4 separate regions of the Homo sapiens genome follow, and all the other regions are linked to region 4. The links come from fine-mapping of genetic effects on gene expression. A gene starts in region 4. Each other region holds a variant in brackets. All regions are shown on one strand. Distances are from middle to middle.

Evidence for each region.
Region 1: its variant is fine-mapped to the expression of DUSP5 in whole blood (INTERVAL, PIP above 0.99).
Region 2: its variant is fine-mapped to the expression of DUSP5 in whole blood (TOPMed, PIP above 0.99).
Region 3: its variant is fine-mapped to the expression of DUSP5 in whole blood (TOPMed, PIP above 0.99).

Annotation. Positions count from the first base shown.
Region 1 is chr10:110,424,797-110,429,942 of GRCh38, forward strand. It overlaps LOC105378482 (a long non-coding RNA gene), which reads right to left. Exons shown (of 4, transcript NR_188210.1): 4 at 4,044-4,214. Among named protein-coding and RNA genes, the nearest start is that of DUSP5-DT, 69 kb to the right of the region's middle. RefSeq lists a silencer at 1,227-1,276 and enhancers at 4,353-4,602, 4,613-4,712. The variant T/A (reference allele first, on the strand shown) is at 2,087.
Region 2 is chr10:110,417,068-110,422,213 of GRCh38, forward strand. No RefSeq gene overlaps it. Among named protein-coding and RNA genes, the nearest start is that of DUSP5-DT, 77 kb to the right of the region's middle. RefSeq lists an enhancer at 490-990. The variant C/A (reference allele first, on the strand shown) is at 2,369.
Region 3 is chr10:110,445,291-110,450,436 of GRCh38, forward strand. LOC105378482 (a long non-coding RNA gene) reads right to left here and starts at 2,146. Exons shown (of 4, transcript NR_188210.1): 1 at 1,805-2,146. The variant G/A (reference allele first, on the strand shown) is at 2,280.
Region 4 is chr10:110,495,269-110,500,414 of GRCh38, forward strand. It overlaps DUSP5 (dual specificity phosphatase 5), which reads left to right and starts at 2,639. Exons shown (of 4, transcript NM_004419.4): 1 at 2,639-3,232. The coding sequence starts at 2,854. DUSP5-DT (DUSP5 divergent transcript) reads right to left here and starts at 1,214. Exons shown (of 2, transcript NR_187547.1): 1 at 1,120-1,214. RefSeq lists an enhancer at 1,161-1,684 and silencers at 2,166-2,695, 2,706-2,845, 2,916-2,975, 3,096-3,365.

The DNA.
Region 1 (5,146 bases), 70 kb before region 4:
CACCATGCCCAGTTGATTTTTATAGGTTTAGTAGAGACAAGGTTTCACCATGTTTCCCAAGCTGGTCTAGAACTCTTGGGCTCAAGTGATCCACCTGCCTCGGCCTCCCAAAGTGCTGTGATGACAGGTGTGAGCCATGGCGCACGGTCCCCCATGCACATTTAAAGCATGGAAAATAAAATCCTGGAAGGACACATGGCAAACTGTTAACAGCATTTACCTCTAAGGTAGAAAAAAGATCTTAAATTTTTTCTTTTATACTTCTGCACTGTTTGAATCTCTTAAAATTAGCACATACTATATATGATGAACACCCCCTCCCAAATAAATATGAAAGGGGCTGGAAGGGGTCAGGTGGTCAACTCTCTCCAAGGTGCAACCAGAGGTAGCTGAGACTAACATGACATAGGTCCCTGTTGGAGGACGATGTCCCCAGTAAACCCAAATTAATTGAGTGACACCATAAAAAAACAGAATAGGGAGGAGTGGGGAAGACCAGTCCCTTTCCTTGTGTCCAGGGATCCCACCCATCTACACCTCCATCCTCCAGTGCCTGGCTAAGGCCCTCCTTAGTGCCCGGGCACAGACTGTGCTCTTCGGAGATGGCTCAAGTGGGCTGTGTGCTTAGGGAGATGGGGCACATGACTGTTAACTACTTTAAAAGTCCTCAATGGGTTTTTTGTTGTTTCTGTTTTTGAGATGGAGTTTTGCTCTTGTTGCCCAGGCTGGAGTGCAATGGCGTGACCTCAGCAACCTGCAACGTCCGCCTCCCAGATTCAAGGGATTCTCCTACCTCAGCCTCCCAAGTAGCTGGGATTACAGGTGTCTGCCACCACACCCAGCTAATTTTTTGTATTTTTAGTAGAGATGGGGTTTCACCATGTTGGTCAGGCTGGTCTCGAACTTCTGACCTCAGGTGATCCACCCTCCTCGGCCTCCCAAAGTGTTGAAATTACAGGCGTGAGCCACCGTGCCCGACCCTGAATGTTTCTGAAGCATGCTGTTTCTTCATTCTGGAATATTCACTAAAAGAGCCCCTACGAATAATTAACCCAGTAGTAATAATAATGCCCACCATTTGTCATTCTTTCTATGTGCTCTGTACATTACACGTGCATCTCAGTTTATCCCAATCAGTAGGCGGTTCCATCCTTCAATTTCATTTTACAAATGAAGAAACCAAAGCTCACAGGGGACATGTAACTTGCCGAAGTTCACATAGCCACAGAGGGCAGAAGCTGAATTCAAACCACTCACTCTGACTCAGCATCCACCTCAGAGCAGCCATTCAGTGGCCTCTTGTGACACATAAAGCAAGAAGATACCAGTGAGTTTTTGGACCATGTCTTCTTGGTAAAGTTACCATTAGTCTGACCACAGATGTTTCTCAAGAAGCAGTGAAGGGGTTGGTTTGGTGATGTCAGTGGCCGGGGTCAGATGAACCAAACCATTGCTAGGCTGTGATGTCTGAGGCTGCCCACGAACTGGTTATTGCCCAGATTTAAAAGAAAGGTGGAAAAAATTATCCTAGTCTACCATATGGCTCAGCCAGCCATAGTGTTTACATAGTCAGAAAAGGTCAACACAGAATAGCGATATAATCAAAATTACCCTCTACGGTGTGGCTGTATTGGGAAGAGAGAGGCGGGGGTGGGTGTGAGGCAACAGGAGCTAAAAGAACTCCTGGTCTCCCAGGGCAGGAAATCAAGAAAAAACTCCTAAAACTACACAGATCAAGAAGAAACTATGTGAGATGTTATTTAGAGACATGAAAGTGAACATTCCAAAGAATCCGTTTCAAGAGTCGAAAGTGGCCACCCTGGAGATGGGTCAGGGCTGCAGTTGTTCATGACTAACTTTGTACATTTCTGAGAAATCTATGCTTATGTGTAACTTCTCTTAAAATAAAAAATTTAATAAAATCCAAAGCAAAAACAAACAGAGCAATTCTGGCCCCATTTGGGGAGGGAGTGGGCTGTGATTACGAGAATGAGGGCCCAGCGGGTGGGGATTCCTCTGTCAGGCATGCAACGGGAAGCTGGTGGGGTCTTGGCAAGGCTTTGGTGGAGAGACGTCATTGGAATGG[T/A]GACCTCATTTGGAACCGGTGAGGGCAGGAGAAGGTAGAAGGGTTAAAAAGAAGAAGAACCACCAAAGGAGAAGAAAAGGAAGCCTGGTCATTCTACAGCCAAGGTCATACTCCCAGGAGACCTACGGCCTTTTGTCGGGGTTACACAAATGTAAAACAAAGGTGTGGTCTCTCCACTAAATGGGGAAGTTTCCACCAGGAGGCCAGTGTGTCATTGAGTAATGTGAATAGTGGAACCCATCCCCAGCTAGTCAGGCCCACACATTCCATACCAGGACCCACGGGCCTCGGGGGTAGAGGCAGGAAGGTAGCATTTGTCTATTGTGAGAACAAGCAGCTTATGTAGACATCAAAGGTCTCAGGATAGCGTATATTCTTCCAGATCTGTGAGGCCCAAACACACACACATGGAGGAGGATCCCAGGGTCTCAGCCCCTCCCCAGATTCTCAAGACTCAGGCCTTGTCCCCTCTCCCATGGGGGTCCTATTGAAAGGAATCCAGAGACCCTGGGAGAATCTGAGTAGGAAGAGGGAACTGGACTTACTGCCATAGGCCCAGGCCTGGGTCAGGACTGTGTCTCTCTGGAAAAGCCACTCTCTTGGGAACTGAGAAAGCCCAGAGCTTGGGCCCAGAGCAGCCCAGGCCTTGACTGGCCTGCCTGTTCCGTCCTCCTGTCTTCTCCAGGAAGCATTTTCTCCTTCCTTCCTTCCTTTCTTTCTTTCTTTCTTTCTTTCTTTCTTTCTTTCTTTCTTTCTTTCTTTCTTTCTTTCTTTCTTTCTTTTTTCCTTCCTTCCTTTCTTTCTTTCTCTTTCTTTCTTTCTTTCTTTCTTTCTTTCTTTCTTTCTTTCTTTCTTTCTTTCCTTTCTTTCTTCCTTCCTTCCTTTCTTTCTTTCTTTCTTTCTTTCTTTCTTTCTTTTCTTTCTTTCTTTTTCTTTCTTTCTCTTTCTCTCTCTCTTTCTTTCTCTCTCTTTCTTTTTTCTCTTTTCTTTTTTTTTTTTTGAGACAGAGTTTTGCTCTGTCACCCAGGCTAGAGTTCAGTGGTGCAATCTTGGCTCACTGCAACCTCTGCCTCCTGGGTTCAAGCGGTTCTCCTGCCTCAGCCTCCCGAGGAGCTAGTATTACAGGCATGTGCCACTGCGCTTGGCAAATTTTTGTATTTTTTAGTAGAGACAGAGTTTCAGCATGTTGGCCAGGCTGGTCTTGAACTCCTGACTTGAGGTGATCTGTCCACCTCAGCCTCCCAAAGTGCTGGGATTACAGGTGTGAGCCACTGCACCCAGCCCAGGAAGCATTTTCTCGATGAGCTCACCAACTCACACCCTGCCTTTACATAACTAGTGTCTCAGTGTTCTGACCTCCAGATATTTGGTCTATAGAGGACACCTCAGCCTGTCTGAGGAAAGACTGATTTGGTGGGGACAGGCCCAGCCCTTAGTGTTATAGGCCTGAGTTTGAACCCCAGTTTTTCACCTGCTAGTTGTGTGGATGCTTTGTTTTTGTTTTTGTTTTGTTTTGTTTTTGAGACAGGGTCTTGTTCTGTCACCCAGGCTGGAGTGTACTGGCAGGATCATGGCTCACTGCAGCCTCAGCCTCCTGGGCTCAAGCAATCCTCCCACCTCAGCCTCCCAGGTAGCTGGGATGACAGGTGCATGCCACCACGTTTGCCTAATTGTTGTATTTTTTTATAGAGACAGGGTGTCACCATGTTGCCCAGGCTGGTCTTGAACTCCTGGGCTCAAGCATTCCTCCTGCCTTGGCCTCCCAAAGTGTTAGGATTATAGGCATGAGCCATGGTGCCTCACCTGTGTGGACTCTTTGAGGCCCAATTTCCTCATCTGAGAACGTTAGGATGAAAACTCACTCCCAAGAGTTGCGAGGCTCAAAAGTGCTACCCTGGGTTAAGCACTGGCCCAAAGTGGAACTGGATTGGAAGAATGGTTAAGACTCAGGCTAGGATGGGGTTGGAGGGAGGCAGGGCCTTGGCAGCCCTCTCCCTTGCAGCAGTGATTTTTATTAAGGCAGGAACTGGACTGGACACACTCAGACAATCACCTTCATGCTGGAGATGTGGCTGGCGCTGGCAAAACCTCTGTGAGATGCTGACTCAGGACAGGTGCCGCTGAGGCCCTTTAGGAAACAGAATTCCACCCATTAGAACCCCTTCAAATGGGGAAGCAGCTAAGTTTGTAGTCCCGCTTCAGGTAGGTTTGGAGGGGTTTCTCATTCTCTCTCAATTTGAGTTCAGATGCAGATGCCTCCTGGGAACTGAAACCCCTCCTATGCTTGGCCTGTATCTTGTTTGGATGCTGCTGTGTCTTGTAGCCATGCCACTGGGGTCACCAGCCAGGGCACATCATTGTCACACAGCCTCCAGCTTCCCAATTCTGACCCTTACCTGCAAAGCCCTCCCTCTGTCCCCTGGGGCTCACCAACACTGTTTCCCATCTCCCTTTTTCTTTCATCTTCACCACAGCCTGGGACAGATGTCAGGGAGGGATAATTATCTACATTTTAGAGAGGAACAAACTGATCCAGAGAAGTAGAGTGACTCACTGTTCTTGCCTGGCTGGATCTAGTCATCTCCTAACCCAGCTACCATCTCTCTAATCCACCCAGCCCTGTCACCTGTCACCAGGGTTACCTTCTTAAAGCCAATGCCCCATTCAGACTTCTGGCTATTTTCCAGTGAGCACCCAGTAAAGAGTCCCCAGCTGCCCTCTCCTGCGTCATCACTCCCGTGTCCCTTTCTACACCCCATGCTGTGACCACATCAGCCCACTCACTCTTCCTACTATATGTTCTCCCCATCTCAGTGGCTCCCCTCATGCTGCATTCTCTGCCTGGTATTCTCTCCCTTCCCTCCCTTCCTTCTCTGAATGTCAAAGTTGAATTCCTCCACCAGGGTCCAGCTCAAATGTTACCGCCTGCTTTGGAGCCTCCCCCGCCAGTCCCCAGTAAGCATGAATCTCTTCTTTCTCTGCACTCGCTGAGTGCTTGGCTTTTACCTGCCCTGGTGCATCGATTTCATTCCACCTGGAGCTAGCGGTGTTTTGCACCAT
Region 2 (5,146 bases), 78 kb before region 4:
CGTGGCAGGGACAAAGCCAGGCCCCCAGGCCTGGGTGAGTAAGGTAGCGAGTGTGTGAGCCCCAGTTGTGAGCAAGAGGGCTTCAGCTGGTCTTGACTTGGGCTGCAGAGCTCTTGGTCCAGGCAAATTCTCACTCCACAAACAATATCTGAGCTTTTCAGTGCTTTGAGATCTGCAGATAAGAGGCTATAAAGATGTATAAATTATTATTATGCTGAGGACAATTTCCTCCCTGGCTGGCAGCCTGCAAGGCTATGCCCAGTCCAATCTCTGCCCCCTAAGGGAGGACCTGAATGCAGGGGGAGATAAATGATGCCCAGAGCCCTCTGGCCAAGGCCAAGCCCACAGTATCCCCACCGGTGGAGAAGCCAGGCCAGGCCAGGCTGTCTTTCCCACCACATCCCACCCATCATGCCCAGCACGTGCCAGCAAGGCTTTTTCCTCTGGAGGAGGAGCTGCTAAGGTGCTGAGTCACCACCTTGATGTCAGCTGGTGCTCTCCACCCTGAGAAGAGTGCCCAGCAAGGGCGCAGCACATCAGCCTGTGCCAACAAACCTGCGGTGACCAGCCTGCTTTGGGGAGGAGTTATTTCCCCTAGGAGAGGGCACACGGTGAGCTGGGGGAATCTGTCCCTAACTCAGCCTGGGGTTCCTGCTGGGGACCATCTCACGGGGCCTCAGTGCACAAGGGTCCTTGTTGGAATAGGGCCCAGACTCCAGCTGCAGGGATGGATTGGGGGGATTTTGTTTGGTATCCCCCTGCCCCGGGAAGGAACCATTAGAAGGGAAAGGGGAGAGAGGAGGCCTCAGAAGTGGTACAAAGTGCCTGGGGGTCCTCCCACTTCATGGCTGTGGGCTTCTGGGTAGGTTACGCACCTACCAATCGTAAGTTGCTTTTTGTTGTTTTTCTTTTTTTGTATTTTTTTGTTTGTTTGTTTTTTGGAGACAAGATCGTGCTCCGTCACTCAGGCTGGAGTGCAATGGCATGATCACAGCTCACTGCAGTCTTGACCTCCCAGGTTCAAGCGATCCATTCACCTTAGCCCCCTGAGTAGCTGAGTCTACAGTCACCTGCCACCACACCCAGCTAATTTTTTTTTTTTTTTTGAGATGGCATTTCCCTCTTGTCATCCAGGCTGGGGTGCAATGGTGTGATCTTGGCTCACTGCAACCTCTGCCTCCCGAGTTCAAGCGATTCTCCTGCCTCGAACTCCTGAGCAACACGCCCAGCTAATATTTAAAAATTTGTAGAGATAAGGGTCTCAGCTTGTTGCCCAGGATGGTCTTGAACTCCTAGGCTCAAGCCATCCTCCTGCCTCGGCCTCCTAAAGTGCTGGGACACAGGCATGAGTCACCACGCCCAGCCCCTTTGGTTGTATTCTTCTTTTAAAGGTAAATGCAAACAGTTTTTTAAACTGAACAGAAACAATGCTCATACCTCCTCTGATGTTTTTTATCCAGCTCCCCTGTCCCCCATCCCTTTCCCAAAGCAATTGCTCTTACCAGTTTGAGGATATCCTTCCAAAAAGTTCTTCTAGGTATCTATACATACATATATGTGTGTGTATGTGGCTATCCTTTTATTTTTTAAATAAATAGGAACATTCTATGTACATTTTACTGGATTTTTTTTTTTTAATTTAATACCATCTTTTGGAAGTTGGTTCATATTGGCAGCTGGGATCTATGACTTTCTTTTTTTTCAACTTTTATTTTAAGTTCAGGGGTACATGTGCAGGATGTGTAGGTTTTCTTTTCTTTTCTTTTTTTTTTTTTTTTGAGATGGAGTTTCGCTCTTTCGCCCAGGCTGGAGTGCAGTGGCGCGATCTCGGCTCACTGCAACCTCTGCCTCCTGGGTTCAAGTGATTCTCCTGCCTCAGCTTCCTGAGTAGCTGGGATTACAGACGCCCACCACCACGTCCGGCTAATTTTTGTATTTTTAGTAGAGATGGGGTTTCACCATATTGGCCAGGCTGGTCTCAAACTTCTGACCTTGTGATCCATCTGCGTTGGCCTCCCAAAGTGCTAGGATTACAGGCGTGAGCCACTGCGCCCGGCTGGGCAGGTTTATTACATAGGTAAATGTGTGCCATGGTGGTTTACTACACACTATGTCTTTCTTTCTAAGGGGTATAGGCAAGCCCCCAGACCTCCCATGTGCTATTTAACAAGGCCTCTCTGGATAGACATTTAAAGGGTCTCCAGTCTCTTACTTCTTTGATGAATATTCTTTTGAATATGTCTATTTTAACTACTTCTCCTGCATTTGTGGGGTGCCCCGGTACACCCAGGGCACTGGAGGAGGCTGCAGGGACCAAGCGGATCATCGTGTGTGAACAAATGCCCAGCTCTCAAGTAGCCAAGGCAGC[C/A]CCAGTGGGACCTGAAGGAGGTGTCACGTGAACCAGGCTACAGACGGGGTTCAAAGAGGAAGTGGGCAGGGCAGATGAATAAGATTAATTTCTGAAATTATCTTAACAAGTTCTTTTCTGATTATAAAGTAAAACATCCTCATTATAGGAAATTTGGAAAATACTGAACAGATGTGAAAATAAGTCACCTGGATCCCCCTCATCTGGAGGTAACCACTGTTGATGTTTAAAACATTTCCTGTCCGCCTATTTTCTAGATACGAAGGATTTCTAGTGGTCAAAGGGAAATGAAGGAAGGGAATCCAGGGAGGGTCCTCTCTCAGCAGAGAAGGAACTGCAGGGAGCACCAGACTGTTTCAGAACACACAGAGAGGAGGTCAGACGCAAGAGGAGACAGGAGGAGATCATGGCAGACTGGGCAAGGGGCAGGGATGGGGGCTGACAATGCAGGTGAGCCTGAGGGTGGCAGGGAAGGATTTGCCCCTAGATCAAGAGAGCAAAAGACCTGAGGAGTCTGGCTTGGAGATTTTAAAGGGATATCTAAGAACAAATTTCACCAGGACTTTGGAAGAGCAAACCTGGCATTCCAAAGGGAGGTTCCTTTTAAAAATACTAACTTGAGAGTTGTAAAAAGAGATGCGAGGCCTGAGTGTGGCTGAGACTGCTAAGAAAAAGTTGTGGCTTCGCAGCCAAGAGTACAGGCTTGAAAACAGCAAGATTTTATTCGAGTCCCAAAGATGCCACTTACCAACTGTGTAGGATTGAGTGATTGACTTATCTTCACTGCTTCTCAGCTTCTCTACTTGTAAAGCATGGGTGACACTAATACACCTGTGTCAGAGGGTCAGCGTAAGGATTACACAAGGTAATGCAGCCAACAGCCTGGAATGGCACCAGGCACCCAGAGGCACTCAGTAATGTTGAGAGAATACAGAATGAGAGCAAAGAAGGGGCTGAGGCCAGAGCTGTGGTGGAAGGTGCTAGAAGGAAGAGGTGCCATTAAAGGTCCCAGAAGAGAGCAGCCTTCTGGACAGGAAGAGTGGCCCCTGTGCAGAGCAGTGCCTCTGGGGTTCAGAGAACATGTGGCGACAGTGCCAAACACTACCTGGGCCAAGGAAGGGCTCCAGGCCTAGAAGGTCTCTGGTGAGTGGCAACTTCAGAGCTGTTGCCATGGTGATGTGGACAGAAGCCAAAAGCTAGAGGTCCAGGGATAATGGGAGATGAGGAAGTCCAGTGGGTGAATTTTGTAAGATCTTCAAGAAGTTTGGCAGTGAAAGGAAAGGGGGAAGTCCTAGCTCAAGGGAAAGGTTGTAGGGAAGAGAGAAAGAGGTGTTTTGTTTTGTTTTGTTTAGAGTGAAGGATATTTCAACATGTTTATAGACTGAAAAGAAAAAAAATCAATATAAGTTCTCAAAGAGAGGAAGTGACTAAGGATGTACTCCACCTCTCTTACACTTCAGTTTCTCATTTGAAAAATCAGAGTGAGAATAAAGGATCTCTGAGGCCCTGCTAGCTTTTTTAGCTCTTTCATCCATCCATCCATCCATCCATCCATCCATCCATCCATCCAACCATCCATCCATCTATCCATCCATCCATCCATCTATCCATCCACCCATCCATCCATCCATCCATCCACCCACCCATCCATCCATCCATCCATCCACCCATCCATCCATCCAGTATTTTAATACACACATTCTGTAGACCTCTGGCCTGGCCTAAGTGCTAAGACGGAGGCCATGGGCTGCAAGGAAGTAGGAAAGAAAAGTAGAAGCAAAGACTCCCTTCTCCAGGGGCCTGTGTTTAACAGGAACAGTAGAGAAGACAATCAGGCAATGACTTAACAACATCACAAAAGGACCTTGAAAGCCATGCCCTTGTAACCATTTGACATCACATTCTAGCACTTACCCAAACCCCTGCCTGCCTCATCCCTGGCTTGCTAACCCCCAGCCTTTGAGAACCTGCCCTTGTTGTGTTAATCCCCTGAGTTCCCCCATGCCCAGCATTGTGCTGGCCCATGTAAGCAATCAGATAATTAGTACTTACTATGTCCATACATCCAAGTATTTATTGAGCATCCACAATGTACCAGGCACTGGGAGAGGATACTGAGCAAAACAGAGCTCTGCCCCCTTAAATTGTTTAGTCTTGAACTGGATGGTTTTGGGAAGCAAGACACAAGAGTCAGATGTGAATTTAAAATTGCAGCTGTGACAAGAGGAAGCAAGGCTTTCCACAAGCAGGGGGATCTGAGAAGGCCTCTCAGAGGAAGTCATTTGGGATCTGAAAGGGGAGCAGAAGGTCACCAGGTGAACAGCACTCCAGGTGGGACAGGGGCTCCACCTGTGCAAAAGCAAAAGGGAAAAGAGAGGAAGAAAGAGAAGAAAAGAGGTGGAGAAAGAGGGAGGACAGGAGCCTGAAAGCAGGCAGTGTGGCTGGGAGGGGGAGGCTCTAGACTGAAGCAGAGGCTGGTAGGGCCTGATAGCCAAGATCAGGAGTGTACTTTATCCGAGAGTGGTAGGAAGCCGTGGGAGTAATTTAAACATGGAAGGGACATGATCAGTTTTTGTTTCAAAGACATCTCCTTGAAGAAATGAGGTGCAGGTCAGTCTGTGTAGTTTGAGCTTATCATACAATACGGTATGTCTGGGACTGGGATGGGGGCTGGTTTTCTTCCTCTACTTTAGATTTAGATATTTCTGCAATCTTTTCTTTTCTTTTCTTTTAAGAAGTGAGTGCCAGGTGCGGTTGCTCACACCTGTAATCCCAACA
Region 3 (5,146 bases), 50 kb before region 4:
TAAAATTTTACAGATATATTAATTCATATAATTAACAACCCTTTATAGGAAAGATTGGAGGGAATGATTATACTTAAAAGCCAGGCTAAAACAAGATTTTCATGACTAGAAGGATACATTCCTCTGATATCTATATTGAAGCTACTGTCATTAATAATTAAAAATGGAAAACAAAAACCTAGGCTAATGCGGTTTCTGGAACCAAGCATTTAATTTTACTTTGAGCCCCGTGCCTTATACAGAGCTTGAACAGAGGAGATGCTCAAAAAATCCATTGGTTAGTGGACATTTTGTGCTCACTGGATCCCGAAGCAGGTACCCAGTCAACACTTGTTAACAGAAACCAGTAGTCAAATACTATTGGTCCCAACCACTGTCCCTGGACCCCAGCTGGGACCCTTATCCAGGTGAGAGTCGGAGGAGTGTGGTCAGCCTTGGGCTGAGTTGTGAGATCCTCTCCCCTGCAATGGGGTGAGGGTAAGGAGAGCACTGACCACTGTCACTACCGAGTGTCTGGGAGTGGTGGACACAAGCAGGGTCTTCCTTTCCTGACTGCCCTTTTAATACAGTATGCAGAGGATGTGTGGACTCAGCCTCATTAAATATTTACTGCCTGTCCCCAGCCTACCTACCCTCCTCCAAACACGTGCAGGTGTACAGGTGAGCAGAGGCCAGGGCTGAAACTCTCGTTCTCACATCTCTCTAGGAGCCAGAATCCAACCCCCTAGGATTCCTTTCCTCAGACCCAGGATATGAAATCACACCCAGAACACTGTGGGCACACCATGGCCTCAAAGGCAACACACGTCCATGTGTTGGCACCATCTTCCTCCAAACCAGATGACTTTTCCAGCTTCCCTCTCTGACATAGCCCCACATTCGCCCCATCACTCAAGCTCAAGGCCTCCATTTCCTCCATCTGTACCCCACTACCCCCAGTCCCGTCTCCAGACACCAGATGTTAGGAGCACTTCCTTCGGCAGCAACCTCCAGCCTTCCATCCCCTCTATTCTCCCCAGCAGCCCTGCTACCAGCCAATCAGTGTTCATGTCTGGGCTATTGCAGTAGACTCCTAACTTGTTTTCCTGATCCCAGGCCGTCCACCTCCAATCCAGCCTGCACCAGATGAATTAGAGCAGAGCACTCTTTTCCTCCATGCATGGCACAGCCCAGAAACATCTGAGAGCTTCCCATTGGCTTCAGAATGAGAGTCTCACTTGCTCACCAGCATTCATTTAATTTAGCCAACACTTACATCATTCTGGGCCAGGTACTATTTATTCTAAGTGCTTTGCAACTATTCACTCATTTAAACTTTATAAAATGAATTTGGTACTGTTATGATCACTGTTTTACAGATGGAGAAACTGAGTCACAGAAGGGTTAAGTAACTTGTCAAGGTCCCAGCATTAGTAAGCAACAGAATTCAAATTTGAACCCAAGTAGTGTAGCTCCAGAGTCCTCATTCCTGTCTTTGGGCATTTGTGTCCAGAATGCTCCATGCCACTTCGCTGACTACTTTCCCAAGGCTGAGTGTCTCCTTCGCCTTTTCCAAGCTTCTCTTCCATTTCTAGTGGCTCAGCCCAAGGGCGAGACAAACTGATCTGAGTATGATTGCCTAGTCCTTTCCTTCCCATGAGGACTCCTTTGCTCTACCTTCCTCCTATGTGGACTGCCATCCACACCCCATCTCCAGCTCGTTCTTACCCTCTGTCCAGGCTGAGCTCTTCTCACTTCTCTGACACCTCCACCCTCCATTCTCAGTGGTCATGCACACCTCCCAAAACTTCCCCTCAGCCCTCACCTGGTGCTCTTGTCTAGTCTGTAGTATCAGTCGTCTTGTGGGGTCCGTAGAGATTCTATCTTTCTAGTTCCTTGAGGGTAATGAGAGAGCATGTTGCAATTCTCACTTATCTCCCCCAGTAGTCTGTTGCCAGAGGAAGCCGGAAGTAGCCAGAGGGAGCCAGAGGGACTAGTGAGACTGGACCAGTGAGGCAACCACAGGAAGGGACACAGAGTCAGCTAGGGGTAGGCTCTGCCTTCCTGGAAAAGGCCCTACACAGACTTGTTGGGCCATGCAAGGTGAGAAAGGATGGTCCCAAGATTCGGCTTCTGCCTGCCTCTTCCACAAAGCTCCTGGCACTCTGGCCTCCTCATTCCCATCCCAGGGCATCTGTGCCAAGAATGCTGTGTTCCCATGTTGCTGCAGAGCCAGATTCCTGTCTCACAGCAGATGCTGCCTGAGTCACTTCCTCTTTGAGGCCTTCCCTGACCACTCC[G/A]TCCAATTTGTTGCCATTTCTCTTCCCCTATCTCTAGAGCCTCTCTCTCAGCATTGCCTTGTTTTATTTTTCTTTTTAATACTTACCAGTTTCCAAAGATATGACTTGATTCCTCAACCATTGTCACCCACCACCCCAATTAAAATGTAAGTTTCATGAGACATATCTCCCTTGTTCACCTCTGAACCGTAGGTCCTCACACATGCCTGGCACAGAGTAAGCCACTGATAAATATTTATTGAATGAAAGAAAGTATGGCCAGGGTCAGTAGCTCACGCCTGTAATCCCAGCACTTTGAAAGACTGAGGCAGGAGGATTACTTGAGCCCAGGAGTTGGAGACCAGCCTGGGGAACATAGTGAGATCCCTGTCTTATTTTAAAAAAGAAAAAAAAAGAAAAAGAATGCATGAAGGACCAAATGAATGAATCTTGTTTGTTGCAAACCAATGCAGCCACACATGGGCCTGCGCTTCTCCTGTCTTTCTTTGGCTGGAAAAGACCATCTGTGTCCACAGGCAACTGCAACAAAGAACCTCATCCCAATGAGTGCTTTTGTCAAGATGCCAAAGAGGCCATGTGGGCAGATCTGGAGAGGTCAGGAAATAGGGACTAGGGATGAGAGTGGTCTTGGTCCCCAGAAATTCCCACTTAAGTGGAGATGAGCTGCAGAAACCCTTTTTTGGTTTTAATCTTAATGCAAATCTTTAAAATGTGTACATAATTTTTACCATTGTGGTAGGCAAAATAGCTTAATGTAGGCATAACTGCCTTAACCAACCATTTTCTTACTGAGCTCTCACATGAACCCTAAAAGGTAACTAGAAATCTGTTTTTAATGGAAGACATAGTTGAGGTTCAAAGATATTAAACTACTTGCCAAAAATTACTCAGTTCTAAATTTTGTCCTAGACCAGAACATTACCGAATGATGTTTGACCTCCTCACTCATATTGCAATGAGATCCTTTGTACAGAAGAGACCCTAAGTAGGGGTGGGAGAATATTGATAATATTTAACCCGTATTGAGCTATTTCTATGTGTCAGGCACTTTTCTGAGACACTTAAATATAGAAACTAATTTAATCCTGACAATGTCCTTTTAAGAAATGAACTCTTGTATGGGGTGGGACTGTGCAAGGTGGAGCAGCAACAGAGGTGAGGGCTCAGCAGGCAGTCACAGGATAGGGCTGTGGGAGCCAGGCCACTGAGGTTGGGGCTGACTGAACTCACGGACCTGATACTTTTCTCGAGAAACAAACCAGCTCAAAAGAAAAATGGCATTTGTTGCAACACAAGGAGCCGTGGTGGTTGACCAAACCACTCTGATGAAAAAGTACCTTCAGTTTGTGGTAGCTCTCACAGATGTAAATATAACTGATGAAACAAAGTTAAAAATCATGCAAGAAAGTATTTGCAAGCCTCATGGTGACCTCAAACCAAGAAACATGCAATGGATACACAAAAAATAAAAAGTAAGAAACTAAATCATATCACCAGAGAAAATCATCTTCAGTAGAAGAAGACAGGAAGGAAAGAAAGAAGAGAAAACCAGAAAACAACCAGAAAGCAAATAACAAAATGGCAGGAGTAAGTCCCTACTTTCAATAATAACACTGAATGTAAATGGACTAAACTCTCCAATCAAAAGACACAGATTGCTGGAATGGATGTAAAAACAAGACCCATTGATCTACTGCCTGCAAGAAACACACTTCACCTATAAAGACACAGACAGACTGAAAATAAAGAGATGGAAAAAGATATTCCATGCCAATGGAAACCAAAAAGAGCAGGAGTCACTATACTTATATCAGACAAAAACTATAAGAGACAAAGAAGACCACTATATAATGATAAAGGGGTCAATTTAGCAAGAGGATACAACAATTTAAAATGTATATGCACCCAACACTGGAGCACCTAAACATATAAAGGAAATATTATTAGAGCTAAAAACAGAGATAGACCCCAATACAATAATAGCTGGAGACTTCAACACCACTTTCAGCATTGGACAGATCTTCCAGACAGAAAATCAACAAAGAAAAATCAGACTTAATCTGCACTATAGACCAAATGGATCTAAGAGATATTTACAGAACATTTTATGCAAGAGCTGCAGAATATACATTCTTTTCCTCAGCACATGGATCATTCTCAAGGATAGACCATATGTTAGGTCACAAAATAAGTCTTAAAGCATTCAAAAAAGTTAAAATAATATCAAGCATCTACTCTGACCACAATGGAATAAAACTAGAAATTAATAACAAAAGGAATTTTGGAAACTATACAATATATGGAAATTAAACAATCTGTTGCTGAATGACCAGTGGGTCAATGAAGAAATTAAGAAGGAAATTGGGCCGGGTGTAGTGGCTCACACCTGTAATTCTAGCACTCTGGGAGGCCTACGTGGGCCAATTCCTTGAGCTCAGGAGTTCAAGACCAGCCTGGGCAACATGACAAAACCCTGTCACTACAAAAAATACAAAACTTAGCTGGGTGTGATGGCACATGCCTGTATTTCCTCCTGTATTCCCAGGGGGCTGAGGTGGGATGTTAAGGTTGCAGTGAGTCGAGATCACACCACCACACTCCAGCCTGGGTGGCAGAGCCAGACCCTATCTCAAAAAAAAAAAAAAAAAAAAGAAAAGAAAAGAAAAGAAAAGAAAAGAAAAGAAAAAAAGAAAGAAAGGAAAGAGAGAAAGAAAAAGAAAAAAGGAATGAAAAAACTTCTTGAAACAAATAATAATGGAAAAACAACATAACAAAACCTATGGGATACAGCAAAAGCAATACTAAGAGGGAAGTTTATAGCTAAAAGTGCCTACATTGAAAAAGAGGAAAAGCTTCAAATGAACAAT
Region 4 (5,146 bases):
ATGCTAACCGGGTGTGGTGGCTCAATCCCAGCACTTTAGGAGGCTGAGGTGGGAGGATTACTTGAGGCCAGGAGTTTGAGCCCACCCTGGCCGACATAGTGAGAACAAGCTTTTTTTTTTTGAGACCGAGTTTCGCTTTTGTTGCCCAGGCTGGAGTGCAATGGCGCGATCTCGGCTCACTGCAACCTCCGCCTCCCAGGTTCAAGCGATTCTCCTGCCTCAGCCTCCCAAGTAGCTGAGATTATAGGCATGCGCCACCATGCTCGGCTAATTTTTTTGTATTGTTAGTAGAGACGGGGTTTCTCCATGTTGGTCAGGCTGGTCTCGAACTCCCGACCTCAGGTGATCCGCCTGCCTCCGCCTCCCAAAGTGCTAGGATTACAGGCGTGAGCCACCGCGCCCGGCCCGAGAACCTATCTAAAAAAAAAAAATCCGGAAACAAAAAAATCTTTGGTGTCCCTCTCCAGTTCTCTCTCCCCATCTCACCCCTCCCAGCATCTCACTTCCTCAATGTGCTCCCATTCCTATGGCCTCCCCATAGCTGCTGTCACTGCCAAGTTCTGGCAAGTCCATATCAGCTCATGTCTAGATTACCCATGAAATCCTCCCATCCATCCCCCAGACTCCGGACCCCACCACCACTCTCAAATAAAGCACCGATCCCGCACAGAGCCGCCTCAGCGATGTTCCCAAATGCTATCCGGATCTTGTCACTGAGTAAGATCCCTCGTTGGGGACTGCCCGGCCAAAGACTAAGACCCAAATGACTCAAAACAGCACAAGGCCCTCTGTTGCCTGACCCTGCTTAATCTGCTAATAAATACCAGAAGGGCCTTAGTCTCCCACATACCTCCAGTACGCACCATGCTGGGGGGGTTGCGTTTTTTGTTTTCTTTACCCCAAGCAGTTTCCTCTGCCTGGAATCTCCCCTCCTGCTTCGCAGCCTGGCTTACAATTCATTCCTCGGAGTTGGCCTCAGCTCTCCTCTCCTCGGGAGGCCTTCTCCAGCCCACGCCCCACCCTGCCACACCCCTACTGGGCGCTCTTCCCCACGGACTACAGGCCTTCCCCTTCCCTCTGGGCTGGGGGCAGCTGGGGCTGAGTATAAGTCTTACTCACGTTGGTGCCGCCAGCCCCAAAACAAAGCCTGGCCCACGTGGGTGCTCCGCGTATGTGTGTGGCTCTAGGCGGAGATGCCGGGGGTGGAAAGAGCCGGTAACAGAAACAGAACGTGCTAGAGGAAGAGCAGCCTGCAGGGAAGGCTGGCACAGATAACCACAAAAAGAAAGAAGGCCCCCGCATCACGTCTTCACCAAGACCCCACTGGCAAGGCGAGGACAGCGCCTTTGGGTGGATGCATCTGTGACCCAGAGGCAATGCTGGCTGTCCTGGTGTCTGATTTGATTGCATCTGATTTCAAAATTTGATCTCTGCTTCCTTCTGAAAACCTCATTCCCTTATGTCAGTTGTCAACAAGCCCTTGTCTAGTGCGGGCAGACTGTTTTCCATCAAGCAGTCCCAGCCAGGCTAACAATAAAATGGTTGGCAGTGAGCTTGGGGGCAGAAACCTGTTTCCATCCATGTGTCCCCGCAGCTAGCAAAGCCCTGGCACACGGCTGACCCTCAATAAATGCTTGCTGAATGGGTGAATTGTGTCTGCTTCCCCAGGAATAGGGGTGGGAGGCCTGAAGCCCCTGGGGACCGGTGGGGGCAGACAGCCTGAGATTAAACTTGATCCATAGATAATCCCCCAAATCCAGAAGCCACCTGGACAACAGTTGGCTGAACTGAGCTCCATCGTGGGATACATGCTGATGGTACTGCTGAGTTCACCAAGGGTCTCCCCGGGACCAGAAAACAGCTCCTCAAAATACAACTTATTATTCTAATCATTATTGGAGAGTGACAGAGAAAAGAGCGTCAATCCTTTGAGGGCAGAATCCATTTAGGAAGATTAAATGGCTATTCTCACCGCCGACCCCCAACCCCCGTTTTTACTTTTACAAACTTTATTATGAAAAATATCAAACATACAGAAAAGTGGAGAAAACAGTATAACGAATCCGGCCACCCATCACCCAGCCTCAGCGATGACCAACCCGCGCCTGACCTCTCCAGTCATCTATACCCCACCCCTCGAGGCAAATCTCCGACGTCCTCTCCTTACACGCGCAGACCTCGGTAGCGACGGGAATCCGTTCCGGACTCCTCTGGGGCCCTGGCCGGCTCCCTCGGCCCTGCTCAGCGCGGCGCGGGCGGGTTCTCAGCCCACGTCCGTGAAGCTGAAGGCCGGATCGTGCGGCGCCGCCCCGCCCCCCACGGCGCTTCCTCCTCGGTCCGCACCGCGAGGGTCACCGCGGCCCCGGAGCGCCTGGGACACTCGACCGGCAGCCGCGGGTGATGCGCGAGTGAGTCCCTCAGCGAAGCGCGGAAGAGAGAACGAAGAGGCGCCTTCCACTTCCTCTCGCTCTAACGCCGGCACCCGCCCCGCGCGTCCCTCGCCCCCGCTGCCCCGCCCCCTGCAGGGCGTGGCCACGGCCCGAGGGGCGGGGAAACACCCATATTTGGCCTTATATGGGCAGCCGCGTCACGGACGGCACTCATTCACATAAAACGCTGCGCGGCCGGCGGAATCCCCGGCTTCTAGGGCGGCGAGCGGCCGGGCTGGCTATCGAGCGAGCGGGGCGGGAACGCGGAGTTGCGCCGCCGCTCGGGCGCCGGGCTCCGTCGCGGCCGCAGCCCCGCGGGTCGCCCTCCCGTGCCTCGCCCGCGGACACCCTGGCCGTGGACACCCTGGCCGTGGGCACCCGCGGGGCGCGCGGCGCGGGGCCGCTGGCCGGCGGCGGCGGCGGCATGAAGGTCACGTCGCTCGACGGGCGCCAGCTGCGCAAGATGCTCCGCAAGGAGGCGGCGGCGCGCTGCGTGGTGCTCGACTGCCGGCCCTATCTGGCCTTCGCTGCCTCGAACGTGCGCGGCTCGCTCAACGTCAACCTCAACTCGGTGGTGCTGCGGCGGGCCCGGGGCGGCGCGGTGTCGGCGCGCTACGTGCTGCCCGACGAGGCGGCGCGCGCGCGGCTCCTGCAGGAGGGCGGCGGCGGCGTCGCGGCCGTGGTGGTGCTGGACCAGGGCAGCCGCCACTGGCAGAAGCTGCGAGAGGAGAGCGCCGCGCGTGTCGTCCTCACCTCGCTACTCGCTTGCCTACCCGCCGGCCCGCGGGTCTACTTCCTCAAAGGTGAGCGCTCGGGGTCCCTGCCACGCTCGCCCCTCCGGCGCCCCCGGGTCCCCTCCCTGCGCCGGGGCGCCCTCCTACACCCTGGGACCGGGAGAGTCACCACCTGCAGGAGTCTGCACCCTGTGGCTTGTTGTGCGCTTGGGAGGGCACTGCAAATGTCAGCACTCAGAGCTCCCCCTCTTCCCCACCCGCGTTCCTCGAAAGCGCCCGGCAGCGGGTCTGCCCGGTGGTCTGGGTGGAGTTGGTTATGCTGCGGGGGCTGCTGCTGTTTAGCAGTTTGGGGGCCGTCGGCTCGTGCCGGGCACGAGCCCCCTTTCCAGACGCGAGCTTCGCCGCTGTCGCTGGGGTCAGGGCTCGGGGCCTTCCTGATAGACTGATCTGGCGGGATCAGCAGGTCGCGATCCACTCTCCCTTGGTGTGGCGCCGTGGTGCCCCCCTTCCTCCCGCCTAGCCAGCTGTGGTCTTCACCGACCCCCTTGCCTTTTTGACCTGGCGAGTCCCTTCCCTTTCCATTTCATTTTATTGCTTTTTATTGTTTCCCTCCGGCCTCTTCTCCCCTCCTAGGTCTTTTCTCTAGCTCAGTTTGGAGCTCACATCCTTTCCACCCTTTTCACCTCCTCCTTCCTCCGCCCCAGGATTATCCCTGGGACCCATCCTGAGCTGAGCCTACAGCCAGCCAGCCACGAAATAGAGGTGCGCGGGGGCAGGGTGGTATGGAGATTCTGCGGCCTTTGATTTGACACCTCCCGGAGCTACCGCCACAGGCCTGCCCATTTCACCTGCCGGGAAGATAACTTTGGCTTCTGGTGGTGGGTGGGTGATTGACTCTCAAAATCCAAAGCATTGGTTTTTTCTGGGTTACTTCCTATGACTGCTCCTGCTTTGTGTTTGAGTCCTTTGTAACCTCAAATGACACCCGGGGAGACCTGACCCACATGTAGAGATGAGGGTTTAGCCCCAGCAGGGCCCCAAGGCCGTGCCAGCCCTGGCGCGGACACCTTGGGATGTAACAGTGTTGGGGATCAGAGCTCGGTGCAGAGAGCCGGCGCCGAGTTAGGAGCCTGTTTTAAAGCCATGCAACTTGAGTTTCACACAGTCCGGGCCAGGAAGATTCTGGAGACAGTTCCCCTCTCTGCTAGCACCTCCTGCTGACTGGTCCCCTGTTGATTTCCTGTTGGAGAGTTAACAGAGGTAGATGGTAATCGTCCTTCTTCTAACAGCCTATCCCCCAGGGGATAGAGGGTTGGCCCTCTGGCTCTGCAGAGGTTTCAGCGTGCCTCCTGATTTCTTTCTCTTCCTAATATGGTTTTTATCTCCTGTGGTTTGGAGAAGTTTCTGCCTCAGTAGTATGAAAGAGGTTCCAGGAGACCCTCCCTGGTCCCACCTCTCCTCCCCATGCTTCTCTAAGCTGGCCCTGCTGACAGTTTAGAAGTTGTCGCCACAAAGTAGGCAGCTCTATAGACTCACATCTCAGGAAAACTGGGTTAAAATGTTTTTTAAAAGAAGGTAACATATACACAGGTAAAAATTTGAACAGCATGAAGGCCCTGTGATGAGAAGCGGGTCTTCTGCATATCTTAGAACCCAGTTCCACTCCCCAGAGACAGTCGTCAACTATTTTTTGTTTACCTTTAGATAGTTTTTCATAAGTATCTTAGAAATAGATTGATTTTGTATAGTCCCTGTCCTGCCTCTTGTATCTATCTAGATCTTGGAGACTTGTCCATATCTGATCATACATGTCTGTTTCACATTGAACCGGTCTCCTGTAATGACCATTAGGTTGCGTCCCGCCTCACTGCTCCAAGCAATGCGGTAGATGTCCTTCTCCATGTGCTCTTGCGTGTGCAGTGCCTTTCAGTAAATCATGAGAATTGCCAGGTCAAGAATTACATGCATTTTAAGTTTCAGTAG